Linked DNA regions of Homo sapiens: region 2 is linked to region 1. The links come from fine-mapping of genetic effects on gene expression. Tissue or cell type: caudate. Region 1 holds a variant in brackets; the other region holds the start of a gene. All regions are shown on one strand. Distances are from middle to middle. Region 1 holds the start of AP1S1 (adaptor related protein complex 1 subunit sigma 1). Region 2 holds the start of NAT16 (N-acetyltransferase 16 (putative)).

Evidence for each region. PIP is the estimated chance that this variant, and not a neighbour inherited with it, causes the effect.
Region 2: it holds the start of NAT16, and the variant in region 1 is the best candidate, but not a certain one, in a credible set for the expression of NAT16 in caudate (GTEx, PIP 0.53).

Annotation. Positions count from the first base shown.
Region 1 is chr7:101,151,561-101,156,929 of GRCh38, forward strand. AP1S1 (adaptor related protein complex 1 subunit sigma 1) reads left to right here and starts at 2,916. Exons shown (of 5, transcript NM_001283.5): 1 at 2,916-2,957; 2 at 5,034-5,212. The coding sequence starts at 2,955. RefSeq lists a silencer at 2,658-2,897 and enhancers at 2,708-3,002, 3,322-3,822, 4,801-5,369. The variant C/G (reference allele first, on the strand shown) is at 2,027.
Region 2 is chr7:101,177,551-101,182,919 of GRCh38, forward strand. NAT16 (N-acetyltransferase 16 (putative)) reads right to left here and starts at 2,743. Exons shown (of 4, transcript NM_198571.3): 1 at 2,492-2,743. RefSeq lists an enhancer at 2,524-3,246 and silencers at 2,618-2,912, 4,980-5,197.

The DNA.
Region 1 (5,369 bases):
TGCTTGATCCGGGGAGGTGGAGGCTGCAGTGAGCCGAGATCGTGCCACTGCACTCCAGCGTGGGCAACAAGAACGAGACTCCGTCTCAACAACAACAACAACAACAAAAAAAAAAAAAAAAAAGGAAGAGTCTGGGAAGAGGAAATGATAGGTACCATTATGAAGTGTTTACAGATACTTGCTATACATTACCTCTAATCCTCAGAACCACCTTGCAAGATATGTACTACTGTCCTCTTTTTTTTTTTTTTTTTTTGAGACAGAAGGCTGAGTCAGGAGGCTGAATCAGGAGAATCACTTGAACCCGGGAGGTGGAGGTTGCAGTGAGCCGAGATTGTGCCACTGCACTCCAGCCTGGGCAACAGAGCAAGACTCCATCTCAAAAAAATAAATACACAAAATAAATAAATAAAGTGGAGACAGGAGGTGAGGCCTTACCAACAATTGCATCATGTGCTACTCAAAAATAATAGCACATTAGTTGCCAACAATTATCTACCATTAACTTTTCTGCATGACAAAATTTAAGATTTTCTCTTATCCTTCTATCCAGACCTCTTTACTTTATCATTTGTGCTAGGGAAGCAGGAGCCTCAGAGAGCCAGCATAAAGCCATTTTAAGTTCAGCTCCATCTTGAAACTAACAAGGCACATTCCTTGTCAGTCACAACCCAAAGCTGTTTACAGTTGGGGAAACAGCTTAAAGATACCTGCAAGGACAGACTCCTCCAACTACAGAAAATCCAGATGCCCCAATACCCATAACAATATGTGCCTTTAAGATAATTATAGTTCTGGCTGGGTGTGGAGGCTAAGGCAGGATTGCTTTAGGCCAGGAGTTCGAGATCAGCCTGGCCAACATTGCAAAACCCCCTCTCTACTAAAGATACAAAAATTAGCTGGGTGTCGTAGCACATGCCTACAATCCCAGTAGTGAGACCCCATCTCTACAACAAAATATTTTTTTAATTAATTGGATGCACTGGTTCATGCCTGCAGTCACAGCTACTTGGGAGGCTGAGGTGAAAGGATGTAGCTGTAATCCAGCTATTAGGGATGCTGAGACACAAGAATGGCTTGAACCCAGGAGGTGGAGGTTGCAGTGAGCTGAGATCACGCCACTGCACTACAGCCTGGGCAACAGATCAAGACTCTGTCTCAAGAAAAAAAAAAAAGGAAGAAAGATAATTAAGTTTTGCTTTGATGTACTTACCTACTAGAATGTCAAGGATAGTTAAATTAACAGAATAATAAATTTTGTCATGCCATTGGCCCATCTGCACATTGACTCGGCTTAGTTTAGTCTCTACAAAAACAAGACCCCTATATAAGAAAAACTTAAAGGTCAGGGGCGGTGGCTCATACCTGTAATCCCAACACTTTGGGAGGCTGAGGAGTGTGGATACCTTGAGTCCAGGAGTCCCAGACCAGCTTGGGTAGCATGACAATACCCTGTGTCTACAAAACATACAACTATTAGCTGGCTGTGGTGGTGCATGCCTGTAGTCCTAGCTACTTGGGAGACTGAAGTGGGAGGATCGCTTGAGCTCAGGAGGTGGAGGCTGCAGTGAACTATGATCATGCTACTACACTCCAGCCTGGGCAACAGAGTAAGACCCTGTCTCAAAAAAAGAAGAAAAAAAAAAAGAAAGAAAGAAAAGAAAAACTTAAGACAGTGTGTTCCTCTGTTTGCTTTCTGAGGACGCCCTACTCCGTAAGGGTGTAGCTTTCAATAAACTCTCTCTTCTCATCGCACTCTACGACTTGCTTTGGGTTCCTTCCTGCATGAGATCCAAGAATTCTCTCTTGGGGTCTGGATCGGGACCCCTTTTTCCAGTAACATGTAGACACACACACACATTCAGTTTAAAAGCCCATATTACAACGTACATCCACCTCATCTTCACACTGAGATTTGGGTGACATCTGTCCCTTTTTGAGTTTTGACCCAAGTTAACCTTTTAAGACGCTCTTTATTTCTTCCCCTTTTGCCTCAGTTCACGTTCCTCCCCCTTCTCCTTACATG[C/G]CTTTTATAGCAGCCTCTCCTTTTCTCTTTTATTCTTTTTCTACACATTTCTCTTACTGTAAAATCAGAAGCCAGGCGCGGTGGCTCACGCCTGTAATCCCAGCAGTTTGGGAAACCGAGGCGGGAGGGTCTCTTGAACCCAAGAGTTCGAGACCAGCCTGGGCAACATAGTAAGACCCCCGTCTCTACTAAAAAAAAATTAAAAATTAGCTGGGCATGACGGTGTGCGTCTGTAGTCCCAGCTACTCAGGAGGCTGAGGCGGGAGGATCGCTTGAGGCCAGGAGTTCAAGGCTGCAGAGAGTCACGATCCCACCACTGCACTCCAACCTGGGTGACGCGGCCAGACCCTGTCTCTAAAAAGAAAAAAACTAGAGGGGTGTATCTATCACGCTTTCAATAGATATTCAGCTTGGGTTCTATACTTTTCTCATGACCCTTTGTCTTTCTGTTTTCCAGGTCACTCCTCCTCCCCTACACTTAATTCCCACCCTGCTCCCTTTTCACGGCCCACTCCCCTTCCAGGAGTCCTGCCTGCTGCTTCGAACTCCAATGATCGTCCCATTCACCTCTCACCCCTTTTCCCGCCTTTTTGCCCCACAAGGCTCCAAAGCGCGAGGACCTTATTGTCCTCCTCCCCCATCCTCCAACCAGCCCACAGGACAGCCGCGTTACCATGACGACCGGGCTCCTAGAAGCTGCAGTCAAGGACCTGGTTGCCATGGTTTCCGCTTCTCCGCCTCCAGCCCCGCCCGCGCTCCCCGCGGCGTCGGCGCCTGCGCAGTGCGTGGCGCGCCGGGAGTCAGAGCCTGGGCGGGACGGGGCGGGGCTTCGGGCGAGAGGGAGGGCAGCAGGAGAAAGGATAAGAAAGGGAGTGGGACTGGCGCCTACGGTGGCCGAAGTGGGACGCGCCGAGCCGGAGGCTGCAGGATGGTAGGCTGTGCGAAGAGGGAGGGGAGGGGGAAGCGAGGGGCGTGGGCTGCACCTGCGGGGGTCCTCGGGGGCCGCCCTCGGGGTGAACCGCCCTGTCTTCCCTCTGGTCCTCAGAGGCCTCCCTTGCCTCGGCGGGTGGGCGAGCCGGGCTCGGGAGGAAGAGGGGGAGGTGGCATTCGGGAGAGGGGCGGGGAGGGGGCGCATTTGCAGGGCGAGCGGGGGCTGACGAAGGGGCGGCGGGGCCGTCCCGAGCCGGGAGGGGCGCTCTGGTCTTGGCCCCTGGGGTCCCTCGATCCCCGCTGCAGGGAAGCCGCCCGAAGCAGAGGGTTGCGGGAGTCTCTTTGCTGAGGGAGGGAGCGGGGGTCACCAGTCACCGAGACCCCCTTCCCGGGCTGCACAGGCGGGAGCGGGGACCCGGGTGGGGAGAGGGGTGTGGGAGGGGAGTTTCCGGGTCGGAAAAGGGAGCGCCCTACTGCGTTCGTGGCCGTGCTTGCCTAGAGGCTGGGCCCAGGTAGGGAAGCGAAGTGGACTCGTGGTTTTTCTCCGAGGGACCCAGGCTTTGGGATCCCGGGCTCCGGGGCTCTCTGCCCCCCTTCCCATTCTCTTTCCGGAATCCAGGCCTTCCGTCTTCCTGCTTGCTCCCCACCCCCCTATTTGAGCGCCGCACGAGGCTCCCCAGCGCCCCTCTTTTCCCCTCCACCAAAAAAATCAGTTCTCCTGAATTCTGATTTTTCACTTACTAAGCTAGTACAGTGCCACACACCCAGGGATTCCAAGCCTGGGCATGTCCATGAATAGAAGAGCTACTGGGGTAAGGAGAAGACTCCAGGATGTGGCCCAGACCCCCCGGAACTGGGAAGCTGGGGTACACTGGGCAGTGAGGGTTCTGTCTTCCATCCCACTTGACCCAGCTTGCTGTCTGTTCTGCAGACATTCTTTTAGGGGAACCCCCTGGGTGGCGGGGCCCTAACTGAGGGAAATTGGTCACCTGGTGTCTGGGGAGGAGTGGGCGCTTAGCAGGAGGCACCCTAAAAGGAAGAAAAGTTAAAGAGAAATGTCGAAGACCAAATGCCTGGGTGCCTGCAGAGAGGAAGATAGGATTTGGGCATCTGCATACCCTGTGTGGTGTTGGAGATACATACTACAGAGGAGGATACCCCTGGGCATAGGCCTGGCACTGGAGGATGATATGTTTGGGAGATCATTAAGATCTTATGGCTATGATGGGGTGGAAAATTGAGGTAGCTTCTCCAGGGACAAAATACCAGATTTCAGCATGGTGATGGATAGAGAGAGGGTGGAAGAGAACAGGCATTTCTTTGGCGTCGGTTACTGTCGTCTTGTCACTGTGCTAGGCATTTTACTTACCTTTAGAAAGCAGACCAGAAAGCAAGAGGTCAGGGAATCATGGTAATAATAGTAATAACTAACGGCCGGGCGCAGTGGCTCATGCCTTAATGCCAGCACTTTGGGAGGCCTAGGTGGGTGGATCACCTGAGGTCGGGAGTTCGAGACCAGGGCCTGGCCAACATGGTGAAACCACATCTCTACTAAAAATACAAATATTAGCCGGGCGTGATGGCACGTGACTGTAATCCCAGCTACTCAGGAGGCTGAGGCAGGAGAATCGCTGGAACTTGGGAGGCGGAGATTGCACTGAACAGTGATTGCGCCACTGCACTCCAGCCTGGGCGACAGAGAGAGACTCTGTCTCAAAAATAATAATAATAATAGCTAACATGTTATACTGCCTGCCTGTGCTAGGGACTTGCATATATCAAATCATTTAGTCTCACCTAACAACTGTGCAAGGCAGGTACAATGTCCATTTTACACATAAGGAAACTGAGGCCCAGAGACTTACAGTAGTAATTGGGCCAAGGCCTTGCATAACTAGTAGAGCCAGGATTTGAACCCAGCTGACAGACTCAGAAGCTCTGACTTCCCCCTGCTGGTGGAAACACCCAGCCTTGAGAGCAAGGGGCTGGATGTTGGAAGAAAGTAGAGAAGAATTAGCTGGAGATAAGTTTGGGGAATGTGTGGTTACCCTCGGTTCTGCCCTCCCATCCCCCACAGATGCGGTTCATGCTATTATTCAGCCGGCAGGGAAAACTGCGGCTGCAAAAATGGTACCTGGCCACTTCGGACAAGGAACGGAAGAAGATGGTGCGCGAGCTCATGCAGGTTGTCCTGGCTCGAAAGCCCAAGATGTGCAGCTTCCTGGAGTGGAGGGACCTCAAAGTTGTCTATAAGAGGTGACTCCCCACCTACTTTCAGACCTGCCTAGATTCAAGTTGGGCAGTGGGTTAAAATGTCTGAGAAATGGTCGTCCTGTAGGTCAGGGAGACCTGGGAGCTGAGGACATCTGGAGGACAGTAATGAATGTCAGCTTCCTTTTTTTTTTTTTTTTTT
Region 2 (5,369 bases), 26 kb after region 1:
TATTTTGCCCAGGCTGGTCTTGAACTCCTGGGCTCAAGTGATCCTCCCACCTCCACTTCCCAAAGTGCTGGGATATTAGGTGTGAGCCACCATGCCCAGCCAAGATCTGTTTTTAGTGTATCTGGATCTCTGACCCCAGCCTGAAGAGCAAGGAGGGGAACTACTGGGTCCTTGAACAGGAGTTGAAGGGCCCAGGTGGGATAAGCTGATGAAGAACCAGAGATGCGGTTGCTAGGAACTCCCTCACTGTCTGGCCCACACTGTCAGCAATCCCTATGCCAACACACAAGCCTCCATGCCTGGAACCAGCCCAAGCCCCAGACCTCTTGCACCACGCTCTGAGGACAATGGGTCCCAGAGAACAGCAAGTTAGCTCCTGACTCCATCTGCAGCTCCAGGCAACATGAACCAGCTGTTCATGGGTCCCAGGAAAATGCAAGCTAGTGGTTCAGTGGTGCTTCCAGCAATACCCTCACTACCCCCAAAGGTGATAAGTTGTGAGCAACCGGTAGACTGGAACCCACCTGACTCATTCAAGACATTTGGCTCCAGTCTCCTTCCCTTGCTTACAGTGGGGAGACCCTTTCCAAATGGCATTTATACGTCTCAGATAAGGTTGTTTGTCGTGGGAGGTAAGGGTAGGGGTGGACGTGGGGAGTTCCCAGAGTCATGGGGAGGGAAGAACTTTCCAATGCATCCCCCATCTTTCAACCCAGGCACCACCTCTACCCCTGTTCCATTTTGGGGGACATGAACAAAGGTTCCCAGGTCCTTAAACCTTGGAGGAGGCGAGTAATAAAACAGGTCAGCGACTCCAGGCCAAGCCAAAGCTGTGGGCTAGCCTGTAACCCTTGCTTCACATGGTGACCACTTCCTACCCTCCAGTCCAGCACCCTCCAGCCTGGCTCCGTGGAACTCTTAACTCTCATCAGATGTCTAGGCAGAGGCGGAGGCAGCTGGTGAGTCCAGGGCACTGTCAGAAATGTAGTCCAGGTATCTCCTGGACCAAGCGCCCTCCTAAAAGAGGGACAGCATTTCTTGGCCGGGCGTGGTGGCTCATGCCTATAATCCCACCACTTTGGGAAGCCAAGGGAGGCGGATCATCTGAGGTCAGGAGTTGGAGACCAGCCTGACCAACATGGAGAAACCCTCTCTCTACTAAAAAAAAAAAAAAAAAAAAAAAATACAAAAGTAGCCGGGCGTGCTGGCGCATTCCTGTAATCCCAGCTACTCAGGAGGCTGAGGCAGGAGAATCGCTTCAACCCGGGAGGCCGAGATTGTGGTGAGCCGAGATCACGCTATTGCACTCCAGCCTGGGCAACAAGAGTGAAACGCTGTCAAAAAAAAAAAAAAAAAAAAAGAGGAATAACATTTCTCTCTTCATGTCTATCCCCACATCCTTGGGGACATTCTTTAAATCTCATAAATATGAATGATCTCTTTGGGGAGGGGGTGATCAGAGTCATAGCTGGGCATGATCGGAGTCAGAGCTGGGAATGCCGGCAGCCCACCCACCCGCACCCCACTCCCACCACACCCCACACACCTGAAATATCGATGCCCTTGAGGCCGATGGCTTCTTGACACTGGGGGAGGGAGGAGAGGGAGGGAAGGGAGAGCCCAGTCGCCGGAGAGGCGGAGACAAAGAAGGCAGCTGCACAAAGCGCCCAAAGATGAGAGCGAAAAGGACGGGAATGGAGGCAGAGAGCAGACAAAAGCGGACAGGAGATGCGGCCGCAGGGGACAGGCAGGGAAGCCGGAGGAGGCTTCGACACCGAATCACAGACATGACACCTCGTGACTCTGGGCCCAGCAGATGAAAAAAAAAAAATCCTAGCACGCACCCCCTCCCCTGGGACACTGTAAATAGAAAGCAGCGTGACACACCCCCTTCGCCCCGGGGTATGGGGGGCGGGGATCCGTGGAGGGGAAGGGGTCAAGGGGAAAAGAAAGTCAGAAAAAAGGCCGTAAGAGAACAACCTTGGAAACAGAGACGGGGAGAGGCGATGAAGTGGGGGCGGGAGAGAAGGCCTAGGGGGTGGGCAGAGGCAGGGGCCGAGGAAGATGGCCCAGCCAAAGGGGGTGGGGGGAGGGCCCCAGAGGGCCACAGTAGTGGAGAAGGGGGGGCTGTCCTGCAGGGTCTTCCCGAGTGAGGGTCTTCCCTCTGCCTCTACCCCGGATTGGGGGCTTGGGCTTGGGGGAGAGGGAGATTGCAAAGGGAGCGATCTGCTTGGCGGGGGTTCCCCTGGGCGCCGGACCCTGGGGACAGGTGGGAGCGACATGGCAACAGAGGGGGGCGGGGGAGCGCTTCTGGACACCTGAAGCGCAGCCTCTGACTCAGTTTTCTGGGTCTTCGGACTGGGAGGGGCTGGGCAGAAGGGGGCGCAGCCGCTTGGTCCCCCTGAGGGGCGGTGGCCTTCTGCTGCCCCATTCTGCGGTGGAGGAGCACGCTAGCCCCCTCCCCAGTCCCCAGGCCCGGCCGCCCCCCTACCTCGCCGGAGCCGGAGCTGGAGCCAGGGCCGAGATGCCGCAAAGCCAAGCGGGGCGGGCGGCGGGCGCAGACACCCCCGGTGCCAAGAGAGAGGTCCCTTTGGAGCCCCCAAGAGTCAAAGGAGGATGACGCGCGGGGACTCGGCCGCGCTGTCGGAGCCCGACTCTAACGTCGGTCAGCGCTGGGGCAGCGCCGCAGCTCCGTTGGCGACGCGGGCCGGGGCGCCCATCGGTTCAGGGGTTCGGGTGGCACGCGTGGCTCCCCCGGCGACGCTCCGGCGGCAGCTTCGAGGGGCGGAGACCCCGGCGACGCGGAAGAAACCCGGGACGGATCCGGAGCGGACTCGTGCCCTGCTGGCGGGGCCGGGGGTCGGGGTGCGCCCTGGGCAGCTGGGTGGCCTCAAGCCCTACTGGCGAGACTCCGCCCTGTGTCCCGGCTGGGGAGTGGGACTGAGGATGGTGGTGTCTCGGGTTTTGGTGGTGGTGATGCTGGTGTTGCTGGCTTAGTTATCTCCCCACCCCACGCCCAGCACCTCCGTTCTCTGTCCGGGGGTCCCCCACTGCCCTGAAGTACCCCTCCTCCAGGAGCCACCCCTCAATGGAATCTCCTCTCTCCATTATAAGAGCGGCTGGGAAGGGGACTCCGAGCCTTCGTCCCCGGAAACTGATAGAGGGAATCAGAAACCCTAGAACACCGGGAAGGCGAAGAGACATCAAGAGACAGAAGTTGAAAGGCTGAAAAGGGCAGAGGGAGGCCAAGATCTCTCCATCTTCTCACCACTGCGTGGGTGCCTGAGCACCCTGGTTCCCCGGGTGCACAAGGCCCCTAAATCCACAATGTACCCCACGGGACAGCAGGCAGAAAGACCTCCAGGTACACAGCGCACACCCAGGCACATTCACACAGACCTCTGCACTCAGGAGGCGCTGCACCCCACGCTGATCCTGGTGGCTGGGGAGGAAGAGGGAAGTGTGGAGCTGGGACCCGGGTGGGTGCAGCGCTGCCCCTGCTCTAATAAGGCGGTGGCCCAGGCTCTTAACTCCTACAAGGTTCTCCATCCCACCTATAAAGTGAGCTCAAGACTGGGTGCGGTGGCTCAAGCCTGTGATCCCAGCACTTTGGGAGGCCGAGGCGGGGGAATCACTTGAGGTCAGGAGTTCGAGACCAGCCTGGCCAACATGGTGAAACCCCGTCTCTACTAAAAATACAACAATTAGCCTGGCCTGGCCGGGCACGGTGGCTCATGCCTGTAATCCCAGCACTCTGGGAGGCCGAGGTGGGAGGATCACCTGAGGTCAGGAGTTCAAGACCAGCATGGCCAACATGGCGAAACCCCGTTTCTACTAAAAATACAAAAATCAGCCGGGCACAGTGGCCTGCACCTGTAATCTCAGCTACTTGGGAGGCTGAGGCAGGAGAATCGCTTGAACCCGGGAGGCAGAGATTGCAATGCGCCGAGATCGTGCCACTGCACTCCAGCCTGCGCGGCAGAGCGAGAATCCAACTCAAAATAAAATAAAATAATAAATAAAGTGAGATCAGAACACCTTCAGTTCTACCCTGTAAGGAGCCAGGAAAGTGATGGACAAAGCCCTTTAGCAACTGTAAACTGCTTTGGAGATGCAGGGAATAATTTTTTTTTTTTTTTTTTGAGAGGAGTCTCACTCTCGCCTAGGCTGGAGTGCAGTGGCGCGATCTCGGCTCACTGCAAGCTCTGCCTCCCGGGTTCATGCCATTCTCCTGCCTCAGCCTCCCCAGTAACTGGGACTACAGACGCCCGCCACCACCCCCGGCTAATTTTTTGTATTTTTAGTAGAGACGGGGTTTCACCGTGTTAGCCAGGATGGTCTCGATCTCCTGACCTCGTGATCCGCCCGCCTCGGCCTCCCAAAGTGCTGGGATTACAGGCGTGGGCCACCGTGCCCGGCCGATGCAGGGAATAATGTTAAGGCCTTTCAAGGTCTGCTGGAGTCCTCTCTCCAGGGGCCGCCCAGCTCTCATGCTCCCCCTACCCTCTCCCCCACCCCAAAATTCATTGTTCACCCATCTTATTCCATTTTTTCTTTCTTTACTTTCCGAGGTGATAACTTCATAATCAGGCAAACTGATCCCATTGGATGTGCCAATGCAATAAGAAGGAAGGTCATGTTCCTGGAATCCCACATACAGGAATTCCAACCGAGGGTTAAAGGGCTAAACAGGAATAACACCAAGGGTTAAAGGGATGAGAATCCCGACTTCTAGGCTGAGGCAGGGCAAAATGCAACTGACAAGTTACTCAACATTTTTTAATAGGACTTCCCCCCATTTCTGATCTCTGAAAGTGCTAACACACTGTGCGTCTCACCAAACTGCAGATTGCAGTTAAGGTGCCATATGCTTCATGATGGGAAAGAACTTCAAAAAGTTACAGGTTTCAAGGAAAAAATCACTAGTGGCCAAAGGGAGAGACCATCATATGCTAATCCCGCCCCTTTCGCCAGAAGCCACACCTTCCACCAACAGAAACTCTTGGATTGGCCCAACCCTCACACACTTCCAGTTCCATCAGCCATTCAGAATTAAAAGTTTACCAACGTTTCGGCCCCTCCCCTTAAGTCCAAGCCACTCAGAAGCAAGTTGTCACTGTAAGTCCCGCCTCCAAACAGCTCACTGGGCCAATGGAAAGCCATCTTGTTCCAGGCTTCATTCTCACACATCTAGGAGAGCCGGTTTTCCTCTCAGCTAGAGAACAAGTGGCTTTCAGCTGCCTGAGTGCTCAGAGGTTGCAGGGAGGCGGCCTATTCTGGGATGGAGGAGAGATCTGGCTGAGAGGAGACAGCCCTGGCGTGGCTGGCCTAGGTTCCAGGATTACCCTCTACCCAGTAGAGTGGTGGTG